Linked DNA regions of Homo sapiens. The protein of the gene in region 1 purifies or fractionates together with the protein of each later gene. This does not show direct contact. Each region holds a gene or a part of one and is shown on either strand. Other genes may lie near its edges. The genes, in order: SLC25A32, PMVK, PLS1 and CCDC25.

Region 1 (7,532 bases):
CCTAGCACAGTTTCTGGGACAAAATATGTGCAAGATGTTTGCTCAACAGAACTCTAAGCTTCCTGTAGGGCAGGGAACATTATTAATCTCTGGTGCTAAATACTGTGCTGATAGACACACGAAGTTGTGATTATGATGATATTATATAGCTATCATTTACTGAGCACTTTCTATGTTTGTTTACTTACTTAAAAAAGACTCACATAAGAGTTCAAGTGCCAGGCGCTGTTCCAAAAACCTTAACCGTTTAATCTCCACAGCATCCTATGTGTTAAGTTCTATTACTATCTCACACTTTATTGATGGGAAAACTGAGGCATAAAGAGGTTAAGTAACTCGAATACGACACGGTGGAGCCAGGATTCAAACCAAGGCAGTATGGCTCCAGAATCTATGTTTTAACTGTCCTGATACGCTGCTAAACACATTGTCTTGGTTAATAATCACGCTTAGGGCCGGGCGTGGTGGCTCACGCCTGTAATCCCAGCACTTTGGGGGGCCGGGACGGACGGATCACGAGGTCAGGAGATCGAGACCATCCTGGCTACCACAGTGAAATCCCATCTACTAAAAATACAAAAAGTTAGCCAGCGGTGGGGGTGGTATGTGCCTGCAGTCCCAGCTACTCAGGAGGCTGAGGCAAAAGAATCACTTGAACCTGGGAGGTGGAGGTTGCAGTGAGCCGAGATCGCGCCACTGCACTCCAGCCTGGCTGACAGAGTGTGACTTCATCTCAAAAAAAAAAAAAAAAAAAAAAAAAAAAAAAAAAATATATATATATATATATATATATATATATATATATATATATAATTATGCTTAGAAAGTAATTTTAAGCTCGTATGTCTAAAAAAACTCAGTGAGTAAAAAGTAAATGCATCTTCTTACCCCATGACTTCATCCTGCTGTTTCTTTCTGACTCCCTGGTAATGGTGTTATATCTAACATTCAACAAAGCTCTAGCCTAGGTCATTCTTATGTATTCCATCTTCCATATTCCCTACTACCAAAACTCAAAGTCCTACTCATCATCTCTTTGCAACACTTACTCATCTTTCAACTCTCTATTTCTAGTTTTTTGTGTTTTGTTTTTGTTTTTGTTTTGAGATGCGGTATCATTCTGTCACCCAAGCTGGAATGCAGTGATATGACTATAGCCTACTGCAGCCTCAACCTCCAGGGCTTAAGTGATCCTCCCACCTTAGCCTCTCACCTCAGCCTCCCAAGTAGCTTGGACCTGAGGCATGCACCACCATGCCCCATTAATCTTTAAATTTTTTGTAGAGACGGGGGTCTCCTTATGATGCCCAGGCTACTCTCGAACTCCTGGGCTCAAGAGATCCTCCCACCTTTGCCGCCCAAAGTGTTGGGTTTATGAATGTGAGCCACTGCATTCCCAGGCAGTTTGGGTCTTCATTATCTTATACTTGGGCTACTTTAATATCATCCCTACTTGATTTGGCGGCAATTTACACTATTATCAGATGTCTTTTTTTTTCTTTTTTTTTTGAGACGGAGTCTTGCTCTGTTGCCCAGGCTGGAGTGCAGTGGCGCAATCTCGGCTCACTGCAAGCTCCACCTCCCGGGTTCACACCATTCTCCTGCCTCAGCCTCCCGAGTAGCTGGGACTACAGGCACCCGCCACCATGCCCGGCTAATTTATTTATTTTTTTGTATTTTTAGTAGAGATGGGGTTTCACCATGTTAGCCAGGATAGTCTCGATCTCCTGACCTCGTGATCTTCCCGCCTCGGCCTCCCAAAGTGCTGGGATTACAGGCGTGAGCCACTGCGCCCAGCCTATCAGATGTCATCTTAAAACAGCTTTTTACATGTCACTCCCATGCTTAAAACTTCCAAAGGCTCCCTATATAGTAGTCTTCAAACTTTCTGTGTGCCCCATTAATAACAGAGTTTTTGAGCAGATCCCTTCTCAACATATGTGTATGTTAATGAGAGCATGTAATTAAAGATGTTCTTTTTTTTTTTTTTTTTTTGAGACGGAGTCTCCCTCTGTCACCCAGGCTGGAGTGCAGTGACGCAATCTCGGCTCACTGCAAGCTCTGCCTCCTGGGTTCACACCATTCTCCCGCCTCAGCCTCCTGAGTAGCTGTGACTACAGGCACCCAGCACCACGCTGGGCTAATTTTTTTGTATTTTTAGTAGAGACGGGATTTCACTGTGTTAGCCAGGATGGTCTCAATCTCCTGACCTCGTGATCCGCCCGTCTCGGCCTCCCAAAGTGCTGGGATTACAGGCATAAGCCACCACGCCCAGCCAAAGATCTTTTTTTTTAAGAAAAATCTTGATTCAACACTGTGATAGATTTAAAGGTTCTAATTTCAGCTTAATTCAATGTTTGGTTTTAATGGCTACTATTATAAAAAAAATTCAAGCAGTACTCACTTTCGCACTGTACTGTATTAACGGGACGGGTTGCATACTGGAATCAATTCCCCACTTTGCAAAGTTTCGTGGTTAACAGATGTGATTTCAATCACTGTAAACCTCTTAAAGAGTGGGACTGGTTCAGTTAATATGGTACTGTGCAAAGTGCAGAATGCCTGTACTTCACAAAGAAAGCATACCCAAAATGATAATGTCCATAATTGGCCACGTTTATTTAATATATTTAATTTTCAGTCTCATCCATCAGTTTTGCAAAGATTATTTTTGAAGTCTAGAAAATTTCTATCTACTCTGATGTCAGCAGCTGTTCCTACAACTAAAATTAGCATTTTAATAATTTCAACAGAAGTTTAAAAACCCCAACAAGATAGATCATTTTGTTTCTAAATCTCTTCATGTAGGCAAAAATGAATCTTTATAGATGGAGAAACTGACATTTATTAAAGCAACTATGTGCTAGGTGCTGTCTTAACAGTGCATACACGAACATGATTCTTCCCCTTTTTGGAGGCTAAGTCTGATGGGAAAGACTATTAACCAAAATAATAATCATGAGACAATGTGATAAACACTGTGAAGAAGTGATAGAATCACAGAAGACGGGTGCTGAAGGGGGCGGGGCTCATGCAGGAGGTAAGCAGGAACAGATTACTGTTCGGTGAAAGTCTTCCAGAGAAAGCGGCTAAACTGGGTAAGGGTGTGTGCCACAGGAGGCCTTAAAAAAGATGACTGAAACGCACTGAGATTTGCAAGGGTGAATACTAAACCACTTGTGGGAAACGTAGTGACTGACTAAAGTGGCAAGGAAGGTGGGACCAGAGATTCAAGGACTGGGAACGATGCCAAATCCAAGTGACAAATCTAATTTATATTTTAGAAACATTACTGCCTTGTGACAAACTGTAAACATCTTTTGAGCAGAGACTTATTAGCAATGCTCACACACATGTTGATAATATCTCCTACTCAACCAAAATAGTGAAATACTGTTTTCGCCTCATCTCATCTCGCTTACTCCTCATTCAAACTAATGACACAGCCCTTCTTTCTATGCCTTAGGTTCATTCCTGCCTGAAGACCTTTGCTCCTGTTATTCTCTTTATTTAGAACAATCTGCTTACGCATGGTTGGTCCCTTGTCATTTAGGTATCACAAAGTACAATTTATAAGTGGTTAGCATGTTAACGGGGGAACAGACCAGGAAGGATAAATTAATTTCATTTAACCATTCTTTCATCAAACTTCTTAAGGGATGGTAAGAGAAAACTGATGCTTTTAAATTCATCTTTGTCTCTTCCAACATCCACAACTAATGTGAAGTAGTAAAGCGGCAAGAAGAGCAGTAGGAAGGTTTTAAAAGCCTGTTTAACTCTCAGCCCTTCAACCCACGAGTTTGGCTCATTCAAGTCCACTTTTCAGTAATAGGAACCTGAAGACAATCCCAGAGCAGCAGCTGGAATTTTTCTCCACTATAGACAACTGTTTCCCACTCACCACTAGAGGAAATTCTTAGAAAAAGGACTTGAACAGACTTTACTTGCTATCCATCCAGTTCCGCAGCGACTCCGTAAGCACAAAGTTTGCCTTAGCGAAAGGTAACTGAGAAAGAACCAGACCAGAGTGCCAGCCTCCCCCGGCTTTACTCCGCGAAAGCCGAGGCTAGACCCAACGACTTGCGGAAACCGTCCCTTTCTCCCTACCAACTTATCTTACCTCTCTGTAAGTCCAACTTGGTTTCGCGGACATAATTGTCCGGATTCCGGCTCAGCATCTTCACCTTCATCTCGGTTGCTCTTCCGGCCGGACTCCACGAGGTGTCCGCTAGGAGTTCCGCCCACCGCCACCTCCTCCCACAGGCGACTTCCGCTTTTCCCAGACTACTTCCAGTCACGTGACTCGCGGAGCGGCGGCCTGCTGGCTCAACTGGATCCTGCGCCGCTCCGTAGTTTTGCCGGCAAACGTTAGCAAGGGGCGGTTCTTTAGCTGTGCAGTCGCTTCCGCGTCCGTGGGCTGGAGCATTTGTGGGCGAGGCAGGGCGGAGACTCGGGAGAGGCTGGGACCTCCCCTCCATCGCGCTTTCCGCCGGCGTGACGTAGTGTCTGTGCCCCGTTCTTGCCCCCTCAGTACTAGAGTCTCCGGCTTCGCTCACGCGCCTTGGGCATAAGAGTCCTCTCGTTGGTCCCGGAGGTGGGGTTGCGCTCACAAGGGGCGACCGTCGCCACGGTGGCGGCCACTGCATCGCGTCCCACCTCCGCGGCCCTGGGCGCCGTGGTGTCGACGGGCCCCGAGCCTATGACGGGCCAGGGCCAGTCGGCGTCCGGGTCGTCGGCGTGGAGCACGGTATTCCGCCACGTCCGGTATGAGAACCTGATAGCGGGCGTGAGCGGCGGCGTCTTATCCAACCTTGCGCTGCATCCGCTCGACCTCGTGAAGATCCGCTTCGCCGGTAAGAGCCCGCCCAGACACCGGGCTGCATCCTCTCACTGTCAGCCCGAACTGGATCTCCTCCGTCTTTTCCGTTCTAGGGGGAGGAGGAGCGTTGAAGGGAGCGTTGCTGTCCGCGTTGGCTAACCTGAACTAGATTTGAGGAAATGGTGCTTGGTGGAGGGGTCGGCCTGCGATCTTCCCCGCTCCTCAAGACTAAGAGAGGGGGCATGTATGTAGAGAAGTCTGAGAAAAAACATCCTCATTGGCAGAGAAGATGGGATTCAAAGCCTGATTTGTAAAATAAAGAAGGGATTGTCACATTTTAAGGTTTAGTCCTCACACGTGCAAATCATTCACTCTTGGAGGAACTTTGAAATCTTAGCATACCCACGTGGTTTGGCAGCTCGACTAGTATTGGGATAGGGCGTAATCTTCAGCGAATGGTTGGGAGTAGATTTAGAATAGAATTCTCTTGAATGTTTGTTTTTTGGCATTTGTAGAATGGTACAAGTTTCTGTGAAAAAATAGCTAGAATCGAAATACTATTTTAAGTGTATTAGATGAATTGAGTATGTTGAAATTAACAAAGCATTTTAGAAGTTAAACTCAACACTAAAGTCTGGAAAGAGTTTCAAAGATGATCTTTGATAACTGAAATTGCAGAAAATAGTTTCCAAATAAAGTTATTACAAGTTAAGTTCAGCCTTGAGAATTAAATCTACAGAAGTTGTTTATTTTAGCATTAGGCAATTCAGTTCACTTGATTTATATTCTCTTAATATTTGTAGACTGCTGTATGGGCTACAGAAGTATCTAATAAAGTTCTTGCCTTCAGGGAACTTAGAATTTAATTGTAGGCGTTAGACTTAGTCATATAAAAGGTAATTCTAGACAACATAAAATCAAGAAATACAAAAACAAAATATAAATACAGGTAAACCGTTAAGAAAATTCTACATTACTGATGGCCATGTGTATCTTTAAGGTTCAGTGGAAGATTGGGGCTTGGGGTTTCCCATAGAAGGGCTAATATTTTGACAGCTGGAGAGGAAGCAAGAACCCGTTCTATGAAGGAAAATCATCGAAAATTATGGAGTATTATCTCTAGAAAAAACACCACAAAGACATATAATGTCATGAAGTTTTATGATGCATGCACAAATAATTATGTTATTGACAAGTAATCTTTATCGAGTATTTACTAGGAGCAAGGCAGTGAACTATGCTTTAGATGCATTATCTCATTTATTATCCTGTAAATCTATTCACAGGAACAATCCTGTGAGTTTATGATATCTGCTATACAGATGAGGATAACAGAAGTTGACTAACTTGCCCAAGTCACAAGTTTGTAAAGATGGATCTGGGATTTAAACCCAGGTAATCTAACTCTGGAACCCTCTGGCACTTAACCCCTCACCGTATTACCTCTATAAGTACCTGTTATACAATGGTTTGAACATTGGAAGAATTTTAGACTTGCCTGCAGGTGCAGGCCTGTATGACTTGCTGTCTGTCTTCAGTAGCATTTTATCTAGGAGCAGAAGAGGTGATAGTCGAGGTGATCATTGAAGAATAGTGTGGTTGGCCTGATGAGTTTAGACAGTGCTTTGAAGCATATCATTCCTGAGGAAAGGGAATTCTTGGTACCTGAGAAGATTAATAGTCTTGATGAATTGGGAAGAGTATTAGGAGACTAGTGGGGCTGAGGTGACAGATAAAAGGATTGAGTTTGGATTGGAGGCCTAAATTAAAGATCCAGGAGTGGAAGCAGGACTTTGTAATAATAAAGCTCACAGTGTAGCTGTGAAATGGTGATAGGAGGAAAACTTAAGAAGATGAATAACGAAATAAAAATTTATTGATTATCAACATCAGTGCTGAGTAACATACTATAATTTTTATGCTTCCATGTAATTAAACTCATTTAATAAAGTTAAAATCTAATGATGACAGGGTGTGGGGGTTAATTCTGAATGCATGTGCTATTAAACCAAACCTGGAATTTTTCTGTGAGTTCAAGTATAAATTGGAACTCAGAGGTGTCCAGAGTGGTAGAAAGATTAGAAATTACTTCATATGAAAAATGACTGGAGGAACTAGTTTAGCTCGGGAGAGAAAAAAACCTCAAGATATTTAGAGAACTTACATGTGGGAAAGGGGGCTGCCTTATTGTGGGTTGATCCTAAGGTCAGACACAGGTTGAGTGGAAATTACAAGGAAGCAGATTTTGGTTTGGCAATGTGGCAGTGCTCAGAAATGAAATTGATGATGATCAGAAGTGGTTCAGATAGTAGTTGGATGACAGAAGTTAGAAGATATTCTTGTATTAGGTGGAAAGATTGGATTGGATGATTATTCAGGCCCCTTCTAACTTTACTCTGTAATTTTAAACCCTCAAGAATGATGAGAGAGCCCCAACAAAGAATGAGATGTAAAAATAGTAATTTTCTCAAATACCCAAAAGCCTAATCTGCAAGTTAAAGTTGTGTGTGAGCTTTTGTGAAGAATGTAGAGACTATGACTACATCCAAAATATTAAGGAACCAAAACGTAAAATTCAGTAACAGTAGTGCCGAGTAAAGTTGTGTAAGTATGTGGTATCGCAAGACCCAGTAGCATAAATAAACTAGTACTTACAGAGTGCTTGCAATATGTCAGGCATAATTCTAAGAGCTTTATATGTACTAACTGATTT
Region 2 (7,021 bases), on another chromosome or scaffold:
GAGTTTGAGACCAGCCTGGCCAACATGGCAAAACCCCGTCTGTACTAAAAATACAAAAATTAGCCGGGTGTAGTGGCGGGCGCCTGTAATCCCAGCTACTTGGGAGGCCGAGGCAGGAGAATCGCTCAAACCTGGGAGGCGGAGATTGCAGTGAGCCGAGATCGCGCCATTGCACTCCAGCCTGGGTGGTGGAGCAAGACTCCGTCTCAAAAAAAAAAAAAAAAAAAAAGGTTGGTTAAGTAAATTAAATAACGAATGAGTTATTTTTATTTTTATTTTCATTTTTGAGATGGATTTTCACTCTTGTTGCCCAGGCTGGAGTGCAATGGGGCGATCTCGGCTCACTGCAACTTCCACCTCCTGGGTTCAGGTGATTCTCCTGCCTCAGCCTCCCGAGTAGCTGGGATTACAGGCATGCGCCATCATGTCCGGCTAATTTTATGCTTTTAGTAGAGACAGGGTTTCACCGTGTTGGTCAGGCTGGTCTCAAACTCCTGACCTCAGGTGATCTGCTGCCTCAGCCTTCCAAAGTACTGGGATTACAGGCGTGAGCCACCACACCTGGCTTTTGTTTCAGTTTTTTAAATTTGCTTTTCTTATTTCATTTTTATGAGACAGGGTCTCACTCTGTCTCCCAGGCTGGCATACAGTGGTACAATCATGGCTCACTGTAGCCTGGAACTCCTGGGCTCAGGAATGCTCCCACCTCAGCCTCTGGAGTAGCTGGGAGTACAGGCACATGCTGCCATGCTCAGCTAATTTTTAAATTTTTTGGTGGAGATGGTATCTCTGGGTCTTATTGTGTTGCCCAGGCTGGTCTTGAACTCCTGGCCTCAAGCACTCCTCCTGCCTTGGCCTCCCAAAGTATTGGGATTACAGGTGTGAGCCACCATGCCCAACCAGTGAATTAATAAATGATATATGTTATGGTGACCAAGTCAGTGGAGACAGATACCTCTGGCTATGAGAGAATTAGTTTAGGGTCTGGGCAATAACCTAATCCAGCTAGAATATTGTGCGCCTGTTCACACTGTAATTAGCACTTTATAGGTTTTACCTGTTAGTTTCAGGGCTCTTTTATATTCTTTAGAGTTTCATAATAATCCTGTGTGGGAGACAGAACAGAAAGTGTTATCCCCATTTTCTGATGAGGAAACAGGATCAGGGACATTGAGACCTACCAAAGTTACATAATACCAGTAGTAGAAATGGGACTTCAACACAGGCCTCTTGACTCCCTTTCTGGGACATGGAAGCTCCTGGAAATTCTAGGCTAACTGGATTCTGATCTCCCTGTCCTGCAGACTTGGAGCTGATGTCTGTGCTGTCCTCCGGCTCTCTGGTCCACTCAAGGAACAGTATGCTCAGGTAGGTGGTGCTTTGTGGCATCCGGTGTGTTGGGCGGGGCCGGCTCCAGGACTTTGGAGCTGTGGCTGCTGCCTGAGTCACTGGCATGATTCCCGTCACCACTGCTGGCAGGGTGGTGGCCAGCTCTTGGTTTTCTGTGAGTGGACCTTTCGGGGGCATTTTCAGCTTATATTTCTTTCCTAATAGCCTCCCTCCCTTCAGAGTGAGTTCAGGAAGGTGTGCCCAGGAAAGGCTGTCGACACTCGAGTTGGCAGCTCTGATGCTGTGTGATTAGTAAGGACCTGCCTGTGCCTCCTCACACCACCCTCTCACTCAGCTGGCCTGACACAGCCCCTAGAACTTTGCTCCTAGAAATTTAGTACAGGCCGAGCACGGTGGCACATGCCTGTAATCCCAGCACTTTGGGAGGCCGAGGCAGGTAGATTGCTTGAGTCCAGGAGTTAGAGACCAGCCTGGCCAACATGGTGAAACCCCATCTCCGTTTCTTTAAAAAAAATTTTTTTTAAAGTAAACAACAACACACAAAAAAGAAATTTAGTCCCAGAAGTTGTCAAAATATATCATTAAGTGAAAAAAAAAAAAAGCCAATACCAAGATATAGAACAGTGTGTAGAGAATGCTACATTTGTCTAAAACTGAAGAGGCACTTTGTGACCAAGAATTGTAAAAGAATTCTAAATATATCTGCTCATATATTTGGCTATTTAACAAATATTTACAGGGTGCCTGTCTCATGTTCAGCACTGTTTCAGGTGCCTGGGATGTGTTCCTGCACTGCATGGGAAAGACAGGTTAGAAACCGTACCATTGGTTGCCCCCAGGGAGGGGACAGGGTGAGAGAGAGATTTTCGACTGTAAATTAATGTGTATCTTTGAATTTTGAACCACATGGATTAAAAAAAATAGAATCGTTAAAATAGAATAAAAAAAATAAGTCAACAGGAACTCTCAGAATCTTAGACTTCAGAAAGGGAACTTGGAAGGCAAGATCAGCCTCCCACATGGTGAAGAGCCCTCTTGTCGCCACATTTTGCCCTTGACCTCTAGGTGCACCCTTCTGGGACGTGTGCTTTGGCCCCTCAATTGGCCAGAGTGTGGTTTCCGGAACCACATAAAATGAATTGTCCCCCCTTCTATATGCCATCTTTGCCTCCATGGGAAGCATTGGGTCATCTCTCACCAGCTGAACAGACCTATTCATAGGGTGGCAGCCTGAGGAATTGTAAGAATAACTAAATTAAGTGGTTTATTTTTTTTTCTTTTTGAGACAAGGTCTTGCTCTGTAGCGCAGGCTGGAGTGCAGTGGCGCATAATGGCTCACTGCAGCCTTGACCTCCTGGGCTCAAGTGATCCTCCCACTTGAGCTTCCCAAGTAGCTAGGAATACAGGTGCATGCCACTATGCCTGGCTAAGTTTAAAATTTTTTTTTGTAGAGATGGGAGTCTCATTATGTTGCCCAGGCTGGTCTCCAACTCCTGGGCTCAAGTGATCCTCCCACTATGGCCTCCCAAAGTGCTAGGATTTGGGCAGGAGCTACTTTACCTGGCCTGGTTTTCAAAAATTTTAAGCAGGATTCTTTCCCAAATGAAACTGGATACAGAATTTCTTTGTATCCAGGAGACAGACTGGGAGCGATGCTGCAGGGTGGTGGGGTGGTGGTGGGGGGATGGGAGGAAGGAAGGGGTGAAGGGGAAGGCACTGAGCCTTCCCTAGTGGGGCCTAGGCACTTCCAAAGGCCTCCCAGGAGCACTTTCAAAACTGATCTTCCAAAGTTCCCAGACAGGTCTTGCTTCTGTCCTACTGAGTGAGACTGGTGGGGTTGGGTGGGGGGCGGGAGGAAGAAGGAGCAGGAGTTTGCATTTTTATTTATTTATTTATTTTATTTATATTTGAGACGGAGTCTCGCTCTGTCGCCCAGCCTAGAGTGCAGTGGCACGATCTTGGCTCACTGCAACCTCCACCTCCTGGGGTTCAAGCAGTTCTACTGCCTTAGCCTCCTGAGTAGCTGGGATTGCAGCCATGGGTGACCACGCCCGGGTAATTGTTTTGTATTTTTAGTAGAGACATGGTTTCACCATATTGGTCAGGCTGGTCTTGAACTCCTGACCTTGTGATCTGCCCGCCTCGGCCTCCCAAAGTGCTGGGATTACAGGCGTGAGCCACTGTGCCTGGCCAGTTTGCATTTTTAAAAGCTCCATGGAAGACTCTGATAGGCCAGACTGCCCTTGCTCTGTGCAAGTCCAGCACCACTCTATCCCCCACTCCCATTAAAAAACAAAACCAAAATGAAATGTTCATGCATTGATTTCCTAAGTCACAAGAAGAAATATAACCAACAAGTAGACCACAACGCTCCTGGAGGGAAACTGGTTCAGGAGCAGGAGGTGGCTACTGACCTCCTCTTGCAGCAAGGGGAGCAGGTGGGTGATCAAGAAATTGAGAGCCTGAGGGGAGAAGGTCTTGTTGCAGTGAGTTCATGGAGGAGCCAGAATCTGAACGAGGTGATGCTTTTCAGACCCCTCCTATCCTGGATCCCTTTGGATGGACCCCTCTGCTTGGAAAGGGGAGAAAGGAGTTCCCCAGGGTGGTCAGAGTAACCTCTCCTGCCTTGGGGGTCCTCTGGGTGTGGGAGGCCTTGCAAGTGCCCAGAGCCAGATGGAGTGATGCTGTTTCAGCAAAGGCGCCAGGAATTTGGGGATGGGAAGGGGTAAGGGGGAGAGAAAGGAGACACAATCTCCGTGGGATTTGGGATGGGGGCAAACAATGCTAGTGGGAGGACATGGAGTGCAGGATTTTTTTTCCCCCCTCAGATTTCCCACTTTAGTTGAAGGCTAAGCCTTTGCCCAGGGGATGCAAACTAATTTCAGTATTAGTTTAAGCCAGAAATAATTGGGAAGGTAAAACTTGCAAAAGAGAAACCACGCCACATATTTCAAAGACAAATTGAAACAATTTCTGGATTATCCCCAGACCTTTCTTCTGTCTACCAGTGATCGGGATTTCTTAGTTGCTGAGACTCTTGCCCTTGCAGACCTTTGTCCTGGCTGAAACCTCATTAATCCTTGCATCAGCCCTGGGGGAGGCAGGTGAGGGTGAGGGATGGCTCTTCCGCTGTTTTAGGAGAGACCACTGAGGTTGAAAGGCCGGTGACGTAGACATAATGTCCTTTGGGCAGGAGCATGGCTTGAACTTCCAGAGACTCCTGGACACCAGCACCTACAAGGAGGCCTTTCGGAAGGACATGATCCGCTGGGGAGAGGAGAAACGCCAGGCTGACCCAGGCTTCTTTTGCAGGAAGATTGTGGAGGGCATCTCCCAGCCCATCTGGGTAAGAGGGCTCCATGGCAGCATGAAGAACACCTGTTTCCCTAGCTCTTCGCTGTGTCCATCTCTCTCTGTCTCCACTGCCACCATCCTGGCCCAAGCCCCCACCATTTCTGGCCTGGACAGTCGCAGTAGCCTCCACACTGGTCTCTAGCTGTGGCTCTTGCCCTCTGTGGTCTATTCATTACACAGTAGCCAGACTGACCTTTTATTATTTATTTATTTATTTATTTATTTATTTATTTATTTATTTTTGAGATGGAGTCTCACACTTGTCGCCTGGGCTGGAGTGCAGTGGCGCAATCTTGGCTCACTGCAACCTCTGCCTCCTGGGTTTAAGTGATTCTTCTGCCTCAGCCTCCCAAGCAGCTGGGACTACAGGTGTCCACCACCACGCCTGGCTAATTTTTGTATTTTTAGTAGAGACGGGTTTTCACCATGTTGGCCAGGCTGGTCTCGAACTCCTGACCTCAGGTGATCCACCCACCTTGGCCTCCCAAAATAGTGGGATTACAGGTGTGAGCCACTGCATGCGGCCCAGACTGACCTTTTAAAAACGTGAACCAGGTGATGTCACTCTTCTGTTTAGAATACTTTGGTGGCTTCCCATTGTGCTCATGAACAAAATGAAAATCCTTCACATGAACTTCTGGGCCTTGTGTGATCCAGTTTCTGCTACTTTTTTAGCCTCCTTACTCCTTAAGCTGTAGCAACACTGGCCTTCTTGGTCCTCAAGTCAGTCGAACTCCTTCTGGAATCAGGGCCTTTGCACATGCCCTTCCACCTGTCTGGACTGCCCTTTCTTTCTCTTTCCCTGGTTAGCTTCAGCTCAGTTGACATGACACCTCCACAGGGAAGCCTTCCCTAATATTCAGGTCTTAACTGGTGCTCCCTGGCAGGTGCTCCTATAGCACCCTACCCCTTTTTTTCCTCATTCATTCTGGCAGTGAATATTGAGTGTCTACTTCTGCCAGGTGTGGTTGCATGTTGTGGGGATATATTGGTGCAAAAGCGCAATGAAATCTCTTCCTTCAGGGAGCTTACATTACAGCTGAGGGTGGCGGGGAGATAGGCACAGAATAAATACAGAATATATCAGGCAGTGGTAAATACTAAGGAGTAAAATAAAGTAGGCCTAGGATATGAGGAGAGATAGGGAAGCGTTGCTGTTTTATTAAGGGTGCCTGGGAAGGCTACACTGATATGATGATGTTTGAGCAAGACCTGAAGGAAATAAGGGATAACTGAATGGATATTTGGGGAAGTAGCTTTCCAGAGAGAGGGAGGAGGAAGTGCAGAGGCTTGAGTGGTGAGTGTGCCTGGTGTGTCTGAGGACAAGCCAGGTGGCCAGAGTGGTGGAAGGTCAGGTCAGACTTCCCAGGGCGGACCTTTGGGAGAGCTGGGATTTTATTCTGAGTGAGATGGGGAGTCACTACAGCGTTCTAAGCAGAGGAGAGACATGATCTGATTTCAGATTGAGAAGCCTGGCCATAGCTGCTGTGGGGAAGATGGGAGCAGAAGCACAGGGGCCGGGTGGAGGACTTTCCTGTGTTTTTTTTTTTTTTTTTTTTTTTTTTTTGAGACAGAGTCTCACTCTTGTCACCAAGGCTGGAGTGCGGTGGCGCGATCTCAGCTCACTCTACCCTCTGCCTTGTGGGTTTAAGCGATTCTTGTGCATCAGCCTCCCGAGTAGCTGGGATTACAGGCATGTGCCATCATGCCCAACTAATTTTTTTTGTATTTTTAGTCGAGACGGTGTTTTACCATTTGGCAAAATTTGAACTCCTGACCTCAAGTGAACCACCCACCTCGGCCTCCCAAAATGCTGGGATTACAGGCATGAGCCACCATGCCTGGCCAGGACCTTTCTGTAACAGACAAAATGACTATGGTTGGGGCGCAGAGGGGAGCAAACGTAGAGTGGAGAGAAGGGGTCAATTTTGCGTGTATTTTGAAGAGAAAACCAACAGGATTTGCCCTTGGGTTGGCTGTGGGGTGTGAGAGACTATACCAAGGATTTTGTTCTGAGCAGGTGGACAAATATAGAATTATCATTTTCTAAGACAGGGAAGGTGGGGAGGAACAGGATTGGAGAGGAAATCAGGAGTTGAGTTTCAGCCGTGTTGAGGTTGAGACACTTGTTGACATACACTGTAATCACATGGTTATTTGATTACTGAATACTTGTTCAGTGTCTCCCACTAGACTGTAAGCTCTGAGAGGGCAGGCACAGGGTCTGTTTTGCTTACCAGTCTAGCCTTAGCACCTAGCACAGTGACCAGCGTACAGTAGGTACTTACTATAATACTTGTTTAATTGGATTAATGAA
Region 3 (8,017 bases), on another chromosome or scaffold:
CGAGATTGCGCCACTGCACTCCAGCCTGGGCGACAGAGCGAGACTCCATCTCAAAAAAAAAAAAAAAAAAAAAAAAGAATATCTGAGTCCCTCCTCTATACAATTAGGGGATAGTCTGGATAAAGCGCTACCATATAGCTCTAAGATCCTAAATGCCCACCCTCCCCATGGCAAAATGCACTTTTTATTTATTTATTTATTTATTTATTTATTTATTTATTCATTCATTCATGTAATAACTATTGAGTGTCTGATACTGCAAAGCAATGTGCCAGGTATTGTGAAGGGTTAAAGGTCATCCTTCAGAGAGCTTATCATCTAGAACGGGAAATAAGACAATTACATCACTAACTAAGAAACAGAGACAATGTCACAATTCGAGGTACTTTTTTTTTTTTTCAGATGCAGTCTTGCACTGTCGCCCATGCTGGAGTGCAGTGGCACAATCTTGGCTCACTGCAAGCTCCGCCTCCCGGGTTCATGCGATTCTCCTGCCTCAGCCTCCCAAGTAGCTGGGACTACAGGCGCCCACCACCATGCCCCCCCAGCTAATTTTTTGTATTTTTAGTAGAGATGGGGTTTCACCGTGTTAGCCAGGATGGTCTCAATCTCCTGACCTTGTGATCCACCCACCTCGGCCTCCCAAAGTGCTGGGATTACAGGCGTGAGCCACCACACCCAGCCAATTGGAGGTACTTTTAAGATAAAAAGAACATTATAAACCCATTACTAACACCCCAACCCTGAAATTCATTTTCAACATGTCTTTCCTTCTCTGCATTTAGTCTTTCACCACATGCTTCTTCCTTTACATTTCTTAATTCTGTGCCCTCTTTTCTCCACTTTGAGTCACAGGCTTAATCCAGGGCCTGGACCAACTGACCCGTGTTTTTACGCCTGTCTCCTGTAATCCCCCTAACTAATCTGTGATCTGTTATCAAAATATGAGGAATCAGAAATGGACTTGGCTGCTGTCTTGATACAGCTCTAACATGGCCTTCCCCATATTATAGAACACACATGAAATCTCTTTACAAAACTATACATACTGCACTTCCTTCCCCCACTCCCTCCCACAAACAGGGGCTAAGAATATACTTTGTGCTTAGTGCTGGGTGGGATGTTTAAGTCATAGGCTTTAACCTCCAAGAGCTTACACAACCTGCCAACTTCCTGGTCGGGAAGTTGGGAGGTGCTAAAATACTCAGGATACTATATACAATGGGGATACTAACAGCACAAACAACAGTAGTAAGTGCTATAGGGTTCAGAAGAGGGAGAGCTACTTCATGCTAAGGCAATCAAGGAAGGCTTCCAAAAAGAGGTCACACCTGAGCTACACCTTGCAGCATGAGCAGGACTTCAATACGGAAAGAGGGAGGCAAACAGGCATTTTGGGCAAAGGGCCCAGGTGACTGAGGGAAGGAAGGAGGGCGTTTTCAGGACCAGCAAATTGTTAGGTGGGGCTTCAGTGAAAGGGCACTTTTTGAAAGGAATTTATGAGGTACTAGGAAGCTTAGTAAGAGAAACAACTAATTTTCTGCTTAAGCCAGACTTCATGGTATAAGTAGAAGAGAAAAAGGAAGTTTAATAATGGAGGTAAAGAAGAGTATCTGCAGGGAGTGGTAAAAAGACCCCAGAAAATGAGAAAACCTGGATCCCAGGCCTAGCTTTGCCAATGAGGGGCTTGGGTGGCCACAGCAAGTCATCTAACCTCGCTGGTCTCAGTTTTCTCATTTGTAAACTGAAGCAGCTGAACTGGCTGACCTCAAAGGTCTCTACAGCCAAAACTAGACCAGCTGTATATTATTTCTGCCATTAAAACATTTATCATGGGAGGAATGAAGGGGGGCAGGATACCTGTATTCCCTTTCCATATAGGTTTCTCTTCCTGAACTTAAAATTTCCTCTTCCTAAACTTACTACCTCTCTCTCTATATATATATATGCCTCCACATTACACATTAACACTTTACTATAGAATTTCATTACATAATTCAACTTAAAGGAAAGCTGATTACAAAGGTGGTGGGGGGTGTAAAAGTACTTGCTTCAAGTTCAGTGTGTGCCCCCTGTCCTGAAATTTTGCTTCTGGCTCACAGGTTCTTCAAGAAATTTATGCAGCACAGCTGAAGCCTCATACAAGTGTATCCAACACCGTGGCTGGAGGGAAAGATATCACGGTATAAGCCATAAAATGTGACATAGTAAGTAAGTAAAGGAGGAAAAGTGAGAATTCTGTTACTCATCTAAACGACCGCTTCCTTTTAATAGTACCAAATGAAGACCGAAATACAGTAATAATTGAAAAGTTAGGGAGAAATCTTAAATTTTTTTAAGTCTCCACTTGAAAATGCAGCTGAAACACGGAAAGTTTTTTGGCAGTGAAATTCGCTGAAAACTGACATTTTTATGCCGCATCCAGAGGTCCCTATGCTCCAGGAAAGGTACCAAAAACAGCACGGATGGGATTTCACTACAGCCCTATTGATCCTATGCACCAAAAGGCCAAAGGCAAATAAACCAGTCCCAGAATTAAAACAAAACAGGCTGGTTCAGAAAGCCTCACCGGCAGCCACCCAAAGTTGAAAGAAGAAAACTTAATGAAATACCTTATTTCATTGCATAGAATCACAATTCAGTTAACAGGCTTATTGTTTAAGCAGTGTAAATACGCGATTTAACACCTGCGGGCACTGCCTGCCGGGACTGGGCAGAAGCGTGCCCAGAGGACGGCGGGCGCCACACTGCACAGCCAGGAGACGAGACGCGAGCGAGGGGACCCGGAGATACTGCCCCCGAGCCGCCGCGCGCCCCCAAAGGAGTAACGCTTCGCTTTCCATCTGTCTGTCCAGCCTTCCTTTTGGGCCCTATCCCCACCCCCGCGTACCTGCCGCCACCGCTGTCCTGCCTTCGAGAGGGCAGCTCCCACTGGAGATCCAAGTACCTGCAGGTCCACTCTGCGGCTACCTCTCCGCGCCCGCGTAGCCGCTGCGCTCGCGCCACTGCGCATGCTCGGCCGGCACCCGGGCCCGCAAACTCTGAATCCACTTGCCGCGTTTTGCCTGCGGCTCCCAGGGGAGGGAAAGGGAAGCCCAGAACCTGGGTTTAGGCTAAGGGTGAAAGAGGAGTTGCAGGCGCTGGGAGCGTGGATGGGGAGAGGTGGACGGGCGCTGCGGCAACGTTATCTCTACCGCCCACAGTTACCCAAGTCTAAAGATGACCACCTACACCCTGGGAATGAGTTTAGCACAGCAGTTCTCAAACTTGAGCGTGGATCAGAATCACCTGGAGAGCTTTTTAAATCACAGATCCCAAACCCGGAAACTGAGTTTCCGATTCAGTTAGGTCTGGAGCGTAGCGCGACAGTTCCCATTTCTAACATGTTCTCAGCGAAAACTGGTGCTACTAGTCTGGGTACCACACTTTGGGACCTGCTGGTCAAAAGGAAAGGTATACGTTATTAAAGGAAGACTTGTTTCTCTCCCCTACTCTTTTTTTTTCCGTTTGTTTCACGGATTGCTTCCTTTTCCTTTAACAGCCACACCTGATTAAAATAAATATATAACTAAAGCCCACACTCAAACAAAAGTGGGATATTTTCTCTCGCATGTGAGTCAGGTAAATGGAATGCTGCCTCAAGAGTTCTCACATACTTTGCCTGAAGCATAATCCGTAGTTGTGGTCTGTCCAACTCAGTCCAGAGAACAGAACAAGGTTTTGCTGCCCCTTTAACTCAAAGTCCCACGTGCCCCTTCTGCGCCTAACACAATATCCAATACAGAATAGGCACCCAACCAACCCTGAGATGGTAACAATAGAAAAAATAAAGGGGGGAAGTTGAAATTATTTTAAGAACTCAAACAAATTGGACGAGCAATGAACTATGAAAGTAGGTGGGCCATGGAGAGGGAAGATAAGGAATTTTTCCCACCTGCCACCTAGAGAATCAGGTGAATTTAGTATTCTTATCTGATTTTTCCCACCTGCCACCTAGAGAATCTGGTAAATTTAGTATCCTTATCTGATACTTATTTATCTAGATATGCAAGGGGAGTTAAGTAAGTTCTCACAAAATAAAGCAAAATATTTCCTTAAAAGGTAAACATACATCTAACATATGACCCAGCCATTTCATTCCTAGATGTTATCCAAGAGAAATTAAAACATATGCTTACACAAAAACTTGAACAGGAATGCTCATAGCAGCTGTTTTTCACAAAAGCCCCAAACCAGAAGGAACCCAACTGTCCAACAACATGTAAATGAAAAAACAAATTGTGGTATATTTATACAATGCAATACTACTCAACAATAAAAAAGAAGAAATACTCTCACACAGGACTCAATATGGATAACTCTCAAAATCGGTATGCTGAGTTGAAGAAGCTAGAGACAAAACATATTGTATAATCCCACTTATATGAAGTACAAACTAACCTATAATGACAAAACCCAGATTAGTAATTGCCTGGAGCCAGGAGTGGAGGGAAGGATAAACTGCAAATGAGCAGAAAAAATATTTTTGGAGGGGGACGATGGAAATTTTCTCTGTTTTGATGGTAGTGACAAGTTCACAGGTGTATACAACTGTCATCGCTAAGTTGTACACTTTAAACATGAAAAATGTGTGTAAATTATTCACCAATAAGTTTGATAAGAGAACACTTTTTCATGAAATACTCTTATGATCTGTTTTTTTTTCGTGGTAATATTGACCAGGGCAGGTTCATGAGGAAACGTAGATTCTAAATATGGTATAACCTGATTTGGGAAAGGTAAAATAAAAAGTCATCCTCTGTAAATGAAGCTAAAAATAATGCATATAAAATGTCTGTAACAACCCTCTGTAAAAGCAGCCAACCCTAAGATATGATTTGTAAATATACCATTGATAAAACCGTTTCCCAAAATTGTTTCCAAGTGTAAAATAATAACTAGAGTATATCATTAGAAATGCACAACCAGGGCCCAGTGCAGTAGCTCACGCCTGTAATCCCAGCACGTTGGCAGGCCAAAGTGGGCAGATCACCTAAGGTCAGGAGTTCAAGACCAGCCTGAGCAACATGATGAAACCCCGTCTCTTCTAAAAATACAAAAATTAGCCGGTCGTGGTGGCAAGCGCCTGTAATCCCAGCTACTCAGGTGGTTGAGGCAGGAGAATCTCTTGAACCCAGGAGGCAGAGGTTGCAGTGAGCCAAGATCAAGCCACTACACTCTAACCTGGGCGACAGAGCGAGACTCTGTCTCAGAAAAAAAAAAAAAAGAAATGCACAACCAGCGTGTAATAATTATATAAAGAAAATTGTTACCTGCTTAACTGATTGTATCACTAGCAATGACAAATAAGGTATTCAAACTGTGTTTCCAGGAGCTCTGGGTTTCATGGAGAGAAAAATACGCAGGGCTCTGGATCAAGGACCCTAACCCAGACTGCTTACATATTGTAGTATCTTGTGAAATCTTATTTGATAAAAGGGTTTCACTGATAATTTTGTTTTTTTGAGACTGAGTCTCGCTCTGTTGCCCCGGCTGGAGTTCAGTGGCACGACCTCAGCTCACTGCAACCTCCACCTCCCAGGTTCAAGAGATGCTCCTACCTCAGCCTCCTGAGTAGCTGGGATTACAGGTGCACACCACCACACCTAGTTAATTTTTTTAATTTTAGTAGAGACAGAGTTTCTCCATGTTGGCCAGTCTGGTCTCGAACTCCTGACCTCAGGTGATCCACCCTCCTCGGCCTCTCACAGTGCTGAGATTATAGGTGTGAGCCACCGCACCTGGCCATCATTGATAATTAAAAGAGCAATCGTTTGAAAACAATTGAAGTAATAGTATCAGGTCGTAAGAATTCACAAAGAGATGGTATATTTGGTGGACCTGTTTTTTGGCTTGCAGAGCAATGAGAAAAAATACATACAAAGATTTTTAAACTAGTTAAAAATGTACACTGTAGTTATAGTAACCATATGTTCCAATTTTTGTAGAATAGTCTTCATTTAAATATTTGTTTATTACATAAATTATATCTAATCATGTATTCCAACTGTTGGTTGAAAAAAATAACATCTTTTAAGCTGGGGGTTGTTTTTCAAAATAATATAAAAAATCACGAACTAAAAATAAAACGAGGATAAAGCAGGGCATGGTGACACACACGTAATGCCAGCATTTTGGGAGGCCAAGGTGGAAAGGGCACTTGAGCTCAGGAGTTCAAGACCAGCCTAGACAACGTGGAAAAAACCCATCTCTAAAAAAAAAACAAAACCAAAATTAGCCAGGTGTGGTGGCATGTGCCTGTGGTTCCAGCTTCTCTGGAGTTTGAGATGGGAGGATCTCTTGAGTCCAGGAGTCTGAGGCTACAGTGAGCCATGTTCACTACACTGGACTCCAGCCTGGGCAACAGAGCAAGACCCTATCCGAAAAAAAAAAATTGAGCTGCTACTGGGTAGTCACCATTTTAAACACTTCACCGTATTTACTCATTGAATATCCATGCCAACCCTATGAAATTATCCTCAATTTACAGATGAGAAAACTGAAGTACAAAATGTTATTTTTCCCATGATAACACAACTAAAGACTAAATAATTACAACTACATTTTTAAAATATATTTTATATAAAGACAATCTTTGCTAATTTCACAGTTTCCAAGGATCCATCTGAATTATTAATTTATTTTTCCAGGCTCATTGATACTAAGAGGGCTACCAAAAAAGCAGAGCTCTAGTGATTACTGCCATCATCATCTTCATTATCATTGCTAATATTTATTCCATGTCTTCTATGTACTAGCTACTGTGCCAAGAAGTTCACATTGTTTATTTCATTTAATATTCATGAAGACAAAAGTGCAGATTCAATAATAATAGGTAACAAAGACAGCGAATGGCGGAACCAGGATTCCAACTCAAGAGTGAATGGCGGGCCGGGCGCGGTGGCTTATCCCAGCACTTTGGGAGGCCGAGACAGGTGGATCACTTGAGGTCAGGAGTTCAAGAACAGCCTGGCCAACATGGTGAAACCTCATCTCTACCAAAAAATACAAAAATTAGCTGGGTGTGGTGGCATGTGCCTGTAGTCCCAGCTACTTGAGAGACTGAGGCAGAAGAATTGCTTGATGCAGGGAGGCAGAGGTTGCAGTGAGCTGAGATCACGTCACTGCACTTCAGCCTGGGTGACGGAGTGAGACCTTGCCTCAAAAAAAAAAAAAAAAAAAAAGCTAATGGAAGAACCAGGATTCAACTCCAGTTTTCTACTATTTACAATACTGGTCCCTGTATTCTAAGGGAAAAATATTGGCATTCTGGATTATAACCGAGTCTCTGTGAATGTGGCTAATGTTAGTTCATTCCCCAGAGCCTGATGGTTTCTAACATGCTTATAACCACAACACCCCACTGCAACCCAGCCCTGATCAGCATCCCGAAATCAGCTACTATATAGGCACCAATTTTACAATCAATTTTAGAAAAGTAGGTGCATTCTGAATGATACCAGCAAGTGTGATGTGACCATATTTATTTCATTTGGCTGGTTTTTTTTTTCCAGAACAAAGAGAGTAGAGAAAAAAACATATGTGAGAAAGACTAAGATTCAATATTCAGTCTGTGGCCATACCACCCTGAACACTCTCGATCTCGTGTGATCTCGGAAGCCAAGCAGGGTCAGACCTGGTTAGTACTTGGATGGGAGATTCAGTATTCATTTCAACTCTGAATTTATGATAAATCATTTAGAAGAGAAAACAATAATATGAGAAATAAGTCCAAAAAAACAGGGCAAAACTTCTCTCTCTCTCATGCATACACACACACACACACACACACACACACACACACACAAAATTTAACACACACACCGTTTTGATCTAACACAGATAAGATCAAAATAGCCAACAAAGCACACACACCTAAACCCACCTACCACCTAAAATCTCATGAAATGATAAAGGGGATAATTTTATTTGTTTATTTTAATCATTATTTATTTTTGAGACACAGGGTCTCACTTTG
Region 4 (7,139 bases), about 76 Mb from region 1:
AACAAACCACATGTACAGAGACAGAGAAATAGCTCATGGCACACACTGTGGAAGGCTAAACTACTGAGAAAAATAAGGAGATGTCAGTGTGATGAAGGTGGAAGAGTAGGGTCTGTGAGTTACAACTTCCCTGAGCCTCAATCTTACTTCTAAAGAGAAAGTATTGCCTTATTCAAACCCACACAAACAATGTGGAACTAGTTTCACTTAAATCTTACCTTTTGGCTGAGCGTGGTGATTCACGCCTTTAATCCTAGCACTTTGGAAGGCCGAGGCGGGTGGATCACTTGAGGTAAGGAGTTCGAGACTAGCCTGGCCAATATGGTGAAACCCCGTTTCTACTAACAAAATACAAAAATTAGCCACGCATGGTGGCGTGTGCCTGTAATCCCAGCTACTTGGGAGACTGAGGCAGTAGAATTGCTTGAACCCAGGAGGTAGAGGTTGCAGTGAACTGAGATCACACCACCGTACTCTAGCCCGAGTGACAGAGGGAGACTCCATCTCAAAAAAACAAAAAACAAAACAAAACAAAAACTCACCTTTTGTAATTCCAGCACTTTGGGAGGTTAAGGTGGGTAGATCACTTGAGCTCAGGAGTTCAAGACCAGCCTGAGCAACATGATGAAACCCCATCTTTACTAAAAATACAAAAATCAGCCAGGCATGTTGGCTGGTCCCTGTAATCCTAGCTGTACCAGAATCGCTTGAACCCAGGAGATGGAGGTTGCAGTAAGCTGAGATCGTGCCACTGCACTCTAGCCTGGGTGACAAAGCAAGACTCCGTCTCAAAAATAAATAAAATAAATCTCACCTTTAGACCGGGCGCAGTGGCTCATGCTGGTAATCCCAGCACTTTGGGAGGCTGAGGCAGGCAGATCACCTGAGGTCGGGAGTTCAAGACCAGCCTGACCAACATGGAGAAACCCCGTCTCTACTAAAAAAATACAAAATTAGCCAGGCTTGGTGGCGCATTCCTGTAATCCCAGCTACACAGGAGGCTGAGGCAGCAGAATCGCTTGAACCCGGGAGGCAGAGGTTGCAGTGAGCCGAGATCGTGCCATTGCACTCCAGCCTGGGCAACAAGAGCAAAACTCCGTCTCCAAAAAAAAAAAAAACAAAAACAAAAACAAAAAACTCACCTTTAACAAGCATATAGAGTAGCAATAGAATAGAAAGTGCTATAAGTAAGTAAAAAAATGGCATTCATTTATTCAACAAGCATTTATTGAGAACTACTAACCAGTCACTACGTTAGGGAAACAAGTACAGTAGTCCCCCCTTATCTGTGGGGGATGTCTTCCAAGATCTCCAGCAGATGCCTGAAACCGAGGACAACACTGAATTCCATATATAAAGGGACTTGCCACATAATGATGCTTTGGTCAGCAACAAACCACACATACTATGGTGGTCCCATAACATTATAACGAAGCTGAAAAATTCTGATCACTATTGCCTGATGACCTGGTAGCCATCATAACAGCGTGGTGCAACTCACTTTTTCTACGTTGAGACCCGTTTAAATACACAAACACCATTGCGTTACCATTGCCTACAGCCATTCAGTACAGCAACGTGCTGTACAAGTTTGTACCCTAGGAGCAACGGTATACTGTACAGCCTACATTTGTGGTAGGCTATACCACAGGTTTAAGTATACTCTACCGTGTTGCTACAACAATGAAACCGCCTAATGGAGCATTTCTCAGAATGTATTCTTGTCATTAAGGGACGCATGGCTACTGGTATTCCCTATATATGTATACCTATGATAAAGTTAATGTATCAGTTCGGTGGAGTAAGAGATTATTGACAATAACTAATAATAAAATAGAACGATTATAACAACGTACTGTAATAAAAGTTAGGTGACTCTGCTCTCTCTCTCTCTCAAAACCTTATTGTACTGTACTCACTCCTTTTCTTCTTGTGATGATGTGACCACGGAAAGCGAAATACAGGACAAGTAGGGACTACTGTAAAGAGATCCTGTCCACGCCCTCAAGGGACTTACACTCTAGCTCAAGCAGACACCATTTAATACCACGTGATAAGTGCAATGCCAAAGGCATACTTGGAACGTTAAGTGGGTCCCAGGAAAGGAATAGCTAAGCAATCTTGGGGTAGGAGCTAGCATCAGGAAAGGCATCTTGGAAAAGATGGGCCAAAACTGTCTTAAGGGAATTAGCTGGGGGTTGATTTTAGGAAAGGGGAATAACAGGAACAGAACGAAACCAAGTCGGGACACTGCATTTCCTGGGAACGAAGGGCACCCTTTCCTTATCTGTCAAAGATAAGTCAGAAGCATTACCATAGGTCACTTCTGAGATCTGGGACATCAACTGCCCGGAGAGTGGCTGGGTGGACATCCCAGGGTCTTTTTATTGTTTTCTGTTGCATCCCAGACCCTACAACCCCTTCCTGAAAGGGTAAGTCGCGCTTCCCTTAAGAAAAAGTTGTTAGCAGGTGTCTCCTTTCTCACAGGGGATAATTACAAGGGTTCAGCCAGAACAAAGGCCGCAGATGGAAGGTGGGAAGAAGACTTGGGATAAGGTGTGTGGAGGAGCCCACAGGCTCTGCCCAATCCCAGGGAGTGACGGGACGTCTTTCCGATTAGGGGACGAGAACTCCCCGATACAAACATAGCAGTGGCATCGCCCCTCCGCGCCCCCCACGCCATGACGAGGGGACGCCGGGGGAAATCCTGCAGCCGTGGGAGGGACGGATGTGCTGGGGGACCGAGAGGCCGCGGGAAGAGGCACTCGCATCCAGAAGGCATTTTAGAGCGAGGGTCAGGCGCAGCGGCGGACTGCGGGTCCCGGCTTCGGAGCCCGCTGTCCAGCAGGGTCCAGGAGGACGTGGCGCCCACTCACCGCTGCTGCTGGTGAAGTAGAACACCATGATCCCGGGAGCGGTGCGGTGACTCCACCGCGGAGCAGCAGCGCTCAACTCACGAAGCTCAGGATACCAGACTCGCGGCGGCCGCCTGGCCCCCGGAACTCCTCCGTGCACTTCCGGCGGACGTCGGGGCGCGTCATAACGCCGGCCGTGGGCGCCATTTTTAATCCTGGCGAGGCGAAGTGTAGTGGCAAGGAGTTTGGTTCAGTGATTTGTGGGTTAAGGGAAAGAGGCTGGGCATCTTGGGCACGTTAGTTAACCTGTCTGTGCTTCACTTTCCTCAGCAGCGAAATGAAGATGATACTAGAGCAGCTAACTCACAGGATATTTTTTAGGGTTAAATAAGTTAATGGGCGCCAAGGGTTTAGAACATAGCACACAAACGAGTTGTTTCTGATACTCACCAGGACAATATGCCTCTTGGGGATTGGACTTTGTTCTGGCTTAAATCGAAGGCCTGCCATCCCAAACCTCTGAACCTCAGAGGTCCTCCTGCTATAAAGTAGGAATAATCATATTCATGTAAAGCTCCTACAGCACTTGGCTTTGCCCTGATTATTTCTCTTGAGAAAGCACTTTTATCTGAGGAATGTGAGTCCCTTTAAATTACTAGGTCTGGAGAGGCATTAAGATAAGACCCCATCATGTTCTACCACCCCCTTGAGCTATGTATTCATCTACTGAAACTACCTGCTTCTGCCACAGGTAGCTACCTACTAACCTAACACTGCCACACAAGACACTATGACATGACCCACACCCTATAGTTTAACAATGTCTAGCCAATCACTGATGCTTGTAGTTTCTATACATCAATGAGAATGCTTGACAGTTGTGTATCAGCCCACTTCCTGCCCCCCTTCTTCGTCTTTAAAAACCTGCTTGTAGCAAAGGCCAGACAGAGCTCATATCCAAGCCTGCTGGTGGAGGGCGGTGGGGGGAGGGGGGTTGGAATCTTCTGGGCAGCTGTCCCCGCTTTAACTCAAGCAAACTCTACATTCTTTTTTTTTTTGCCTCAGCCTTTTCCTTTTAAACTGACACTCTTACATCACTGTCACTGACTTCATTCTATGAAATTGAGGGCGTCACTTAACGAAATTTATTTACATGCTTGCTTTGACAGCATGTATACTAAAATTGGAATGATACAGAGAACTTTAACATGGCCCCTGCTCAAGGATGACATACAAATTTGTGAAAATTAAATTTGAAAAAATAAACATAAAACTCTAAACTTATTTGAAACTAAAAATGTGCCAGAAACACTGTACCAGGAGCTGGTGACACAAAGATAGTAACAATAGCTAACAATAACCGTTTTAGGAACTTTCTGGTTTTCCAAAGTAAGAATTTAGCTCTGTTCTGTAAATAGCAATTGTTTTGGGTTCTCCGTTGTATTATTTGTAAAATGGGAATGGCAATAGATATTAATGCCTTACAGATTGTGGTAAGAAGTAAATGAAACAAAACATGTAAAGCATCTAAGAATGCCTGGCACATAGCAGGTGTTAAGTTTTATATTTTAATTTGAAAAATAAATAGAAACCTAAAGTTACTAATAAAAAAAGTGAAACTGACAATGAAGCTTCAAATGTGAAAAATAAGTGCATCGAGAATCTTGGAGAGGCCTTTATTTATTTATTTATTTATTTATTTTTGAGACGGAGTCTTGCTCTGTCGCCAGGCTGGAGAGGCCATTTTACAAAAATTTCTTACCCCGTGACCCCAGAATGTATCTCAACTTCAACTGGACCGAGAACTACAATTCCCAGAATGCACCTAAACAAGGCCCCGGGAACGGAGTCCGGCGTTGCTGCAGGGGATTGTGGGTGGCGTGGTTTCCCTCAGAGATTTTTCACCTCACCAGGGCGCGAGAATCTTGGAAACAGCCACCAGGGTGGGCGGGGCAAGGGCTGGTGCTCCACCAATCACCGAGCCAGCCCCTGGAAGCGCTGAGCCGTGGCCAATCGGAACGCAGCGGCTTCCTCCTAGCCTGGCGCGCGATTATTTGAAGACGCTCACGGAGCGGCTGGCTAGGCTGAGGAGAGCTCGCCGGGCTCTGAGGCGCAGGTAACCTCTGGAGTAGGCCGAGGCGGGGGGCTGTGGAAGGCTGAGGCGAGCGGGAGACCCTGTGGAACGTGGGGGCGAATGTCACGGGGAAAGAGCTTTTGCTCGGCGCTCGGCAGGTCCGCAGGCCCGAGACCGAAGAAGCCACTGACTCGTTCTCCGCGCTCACAGGCGCCGGGTTTCCCTCTTCCCGACGCCGGCGTTTCCTTGTTTTGGGTTTAGGGTTTGTTTGTTTGTTTGTTTCCCTGACCGGGTTCAGGGTCGGGACGCTTTCCTCTCCTACCTTTCCTCGCTTAGCCCCAGAGGGGTCCCCCCTTAAGCCGCAGCTCGACCTGAATTCCCAGAGACCCTGGCCTTTCAGTTTGTTCATTCATTAATAGCTTTGAAATAACGCTTGTGTGCTGCTTTGGGGGGAATTTCCCTGATCCCAGGGAAGGGGAAGGAAATGAATTCTGACGAGCCACGTAGCCGCCTGCTCGTGCATTCTAGCATTTGTTTTCAGCAGCCTTACGACTTCAAGAGATTTTTATAAAAAGGGAAGCAAACGGCTTGCTCCGGGCTCATCAGCTAGGAAAATGGCAGAGGACTGTGCTTCACCCGTTTTCTTGCTGGGCTCTGATGAAAAGTTACAGACGGTCTCTGCCTTCATTGAAGGCTGTTGAGATGGGGAAACAAGAAAATGTCTTAAATGGACTATTAGGGAAATACAGGGTGCCATGGAAGCAGAACAAGCGCGTGTAACCCTTGGAGGGGTGGAAGGAGAGCAATGTCGAGGAAGACCTCCCAGAAAATAGGGTTTTAACTTGGTGTGAAATAGACTAATTAAAGGGGGTATAATTTTGATAAAGCGATTTTTAATATTTTGATGAATGTGGTTATTGTCATTTCTTTTAGGAATTCAATAAAGAAAATGGCAGCTCTTACTCCAAGGAAGAGGAAGCAGGATTCTTTGAAGTGTGACAGGTGAATCTCAGCCTGTGAATAGAAACTCTTAGAAAAATCCACCTTCTTGTCTCTCTTGTTCTCTCCTATTTTCTAAAATTTTCGTTCTTCCACTAGCCTACTCCTTGTGGCTACAGTGATAACCTGATAACCTATATTCTAATTCTAGCTTGGAAATACATTAAGTTTTCATAATGAATTATTTAGTCCTTTTCAAGGGAATCAAAGCTGTTTTTTAGTTTTTGTTTTTTTCTTTTGACATAGAAGCAGCACATTGAAGAAAGCTGTTTTCTATAGCTAGGAAATATACCAAATCAGCTATTACCTTTTTCCTTTCTGTTCCCCTATAATATTTTACAGTGTTTTGCATACAGTAGATGCTTGTCTGGAAACAATTCTAGAAAGACTGTGTACTCAGATATTAATTACTCTACCCAGGAAAAGCCCCAGGGGGTCAGTTCATTACAGACAGTTATTATAGGGGGCTTGTAAACAATAGAGCAAAATATATGAGCTATAATTTATATATGGCCAACACATAGAAATCGATTTTAAAACATACATGCATATATGTCTATCATAGCTTCTTTGTATATAGTATTTGTTTTCATGAACTCTTTGGGAAGATATTTGAATGTTTTATTTGATAAAGACAGAATTTGAGAATCCTACTGTTAAACTAATAGAAAATTGTGTGTATGGGGGGTACATGTATTGTTTTTAATATGACCTACAAGTAGAGCTTACTTAGCAGTAGATTTATGTAAATTTTGACGCAAAATAATCTTATCAATGGACTTTGTTTCTTTTTATAGCCTTTTACACTTCACTGAAAATCTGTTTCCATCACCTAATAAAAAGCACTGTTTTTATCAAAACAGTGATAAAAATGAAGAAAACCTGCATTGCTCTCAACAAGAGCATTTTGTTTTAAGTGCGCTCAAAACAACTGAAATAAATAGACTGCCATCAGCAAATCAAGGCTCACCATTTAAATCTGCGCTCTCCACTGTATCTTTTTACAACCAAAATAAGTGGTACCTCAATCCACTGGAGAGAAAGCTGATAAAAGAGAGTAGATCTACTTGTCTAAAAACTAATGATGAAGATAAATCTTTTCCCATTGTGACAGAAAAAATGCAAGGAAAACCAGTCTGCTCCAAGAAGAACAACAAAAAACCACAGAAGAGTTTAACTGCTAAGTATCAACCAAAGTATAGACACATCAA

Evidence for each region.
Region 2: the proteins of SLC25A32 (region 1) and PMVK purify together in Homo sapiens (affinity purification with mass spectrometry; 3 studies listed by BioGRID and IntAct, with this or other methods). This does not show direct contact.
Region 3: the proteins of SLC25A32 (region 1) and PLS1 purify together in Homo sapiens (affinity purification with mass spectrometry; 3 studies listed by BioGRID and IntAct, with this or other methods). This does not show direct contact.
Region 4: the proteins of SLC25A32 (region 1) and CCDC25 purify together in Homo sapiens (affinity purification with mass spectrometry; 3 studies listed by BioGRID and IntAct, with this or other methods). This does not show direct contact.

The regions. Positions count from the first base shown.
Region 1 is NC_000008.11:103,412,105-103,419,636, reverse strand, and holds the start of SLC25A32 (solute carrier family 25 member 32), read left to right. Parts: upstream 1-4,529; 5' UTR 4,530-4,699; coding exon 4,700-4,853; intron 4,854-6,105; exon of another isoform or gene 6,106-6,214; intron 6,215-7,532. Other genes in the region: DCAF13 (DDB1- and CUL4-associated factor 13), read right to left, coding at 4,121-4,190. UniProt on the Homo sapiens protein: Facilitates flavin adenine dinucleotide (FAD) translocation across the mitochondrial inner membrane into the mitochondrial matrix where it acts as a redox cofactor to assist flavoenzyme activities in fundamental metabolic processes including fatty acid beta-oxidation, amino acid and choline metabolism as well as mitochondrial electron transportation.
Region 2 is NC_000001.11:154,926,699-154,933,719, reverse strand, and holds part of PMVK (phosphomevalonate kinase), read left to right. Parts: intron 1-1,304; coding exon 1,305-1,368; intron 1,369-4,543; coding exon 4,544-4,696; intron 4,697-7,021. UniProt on the Homo sapiens protein: Catalyzes the reversible ATP-dependent phosphorylation of mevalonate 5-phosphate to produce mevalonate diphosphate and ADP, a key step in the mevalonic acid mediated biosynthesis of isopentenyl diphosphate and other polyisoprenoid metabolites.
Region 3 is NC_000003.12:142,591,383-142,599,399, reverse strand, and holds the start of PLS1 (plastin-1), read right to left. Parts: upstream 3,008-8,017; 5' UTR 2,891-3,007; exon of another isoform or gene 2,052-2,890; intron 1-2,051. UniProt on the Homo sapiens protein: Actin-bundling protein. In the inner ear, it is required for stereocilia formation. Mediates liquid packing of actin filaments that is necessary for stereocilia to grow to their proper dimensions.
Region 4 is NC_000008.11:27,769,637-27,776,775, forward strand, and holds the start of CCDC25 (coiled-coil domain-containing protein 25), read right to left. Parts: upstream 3,005-7,139; 5' UTR 2,905-3,004; coding exon 2,877-2,904; intron 2,433-2,876; exon of another isoform or gene 2,338-2,432; intron 1-2,337. Other genes in the region: N-acetyltransferase ESCO2, read left to right, coding at 5,879-5,931, 6,726-7,139.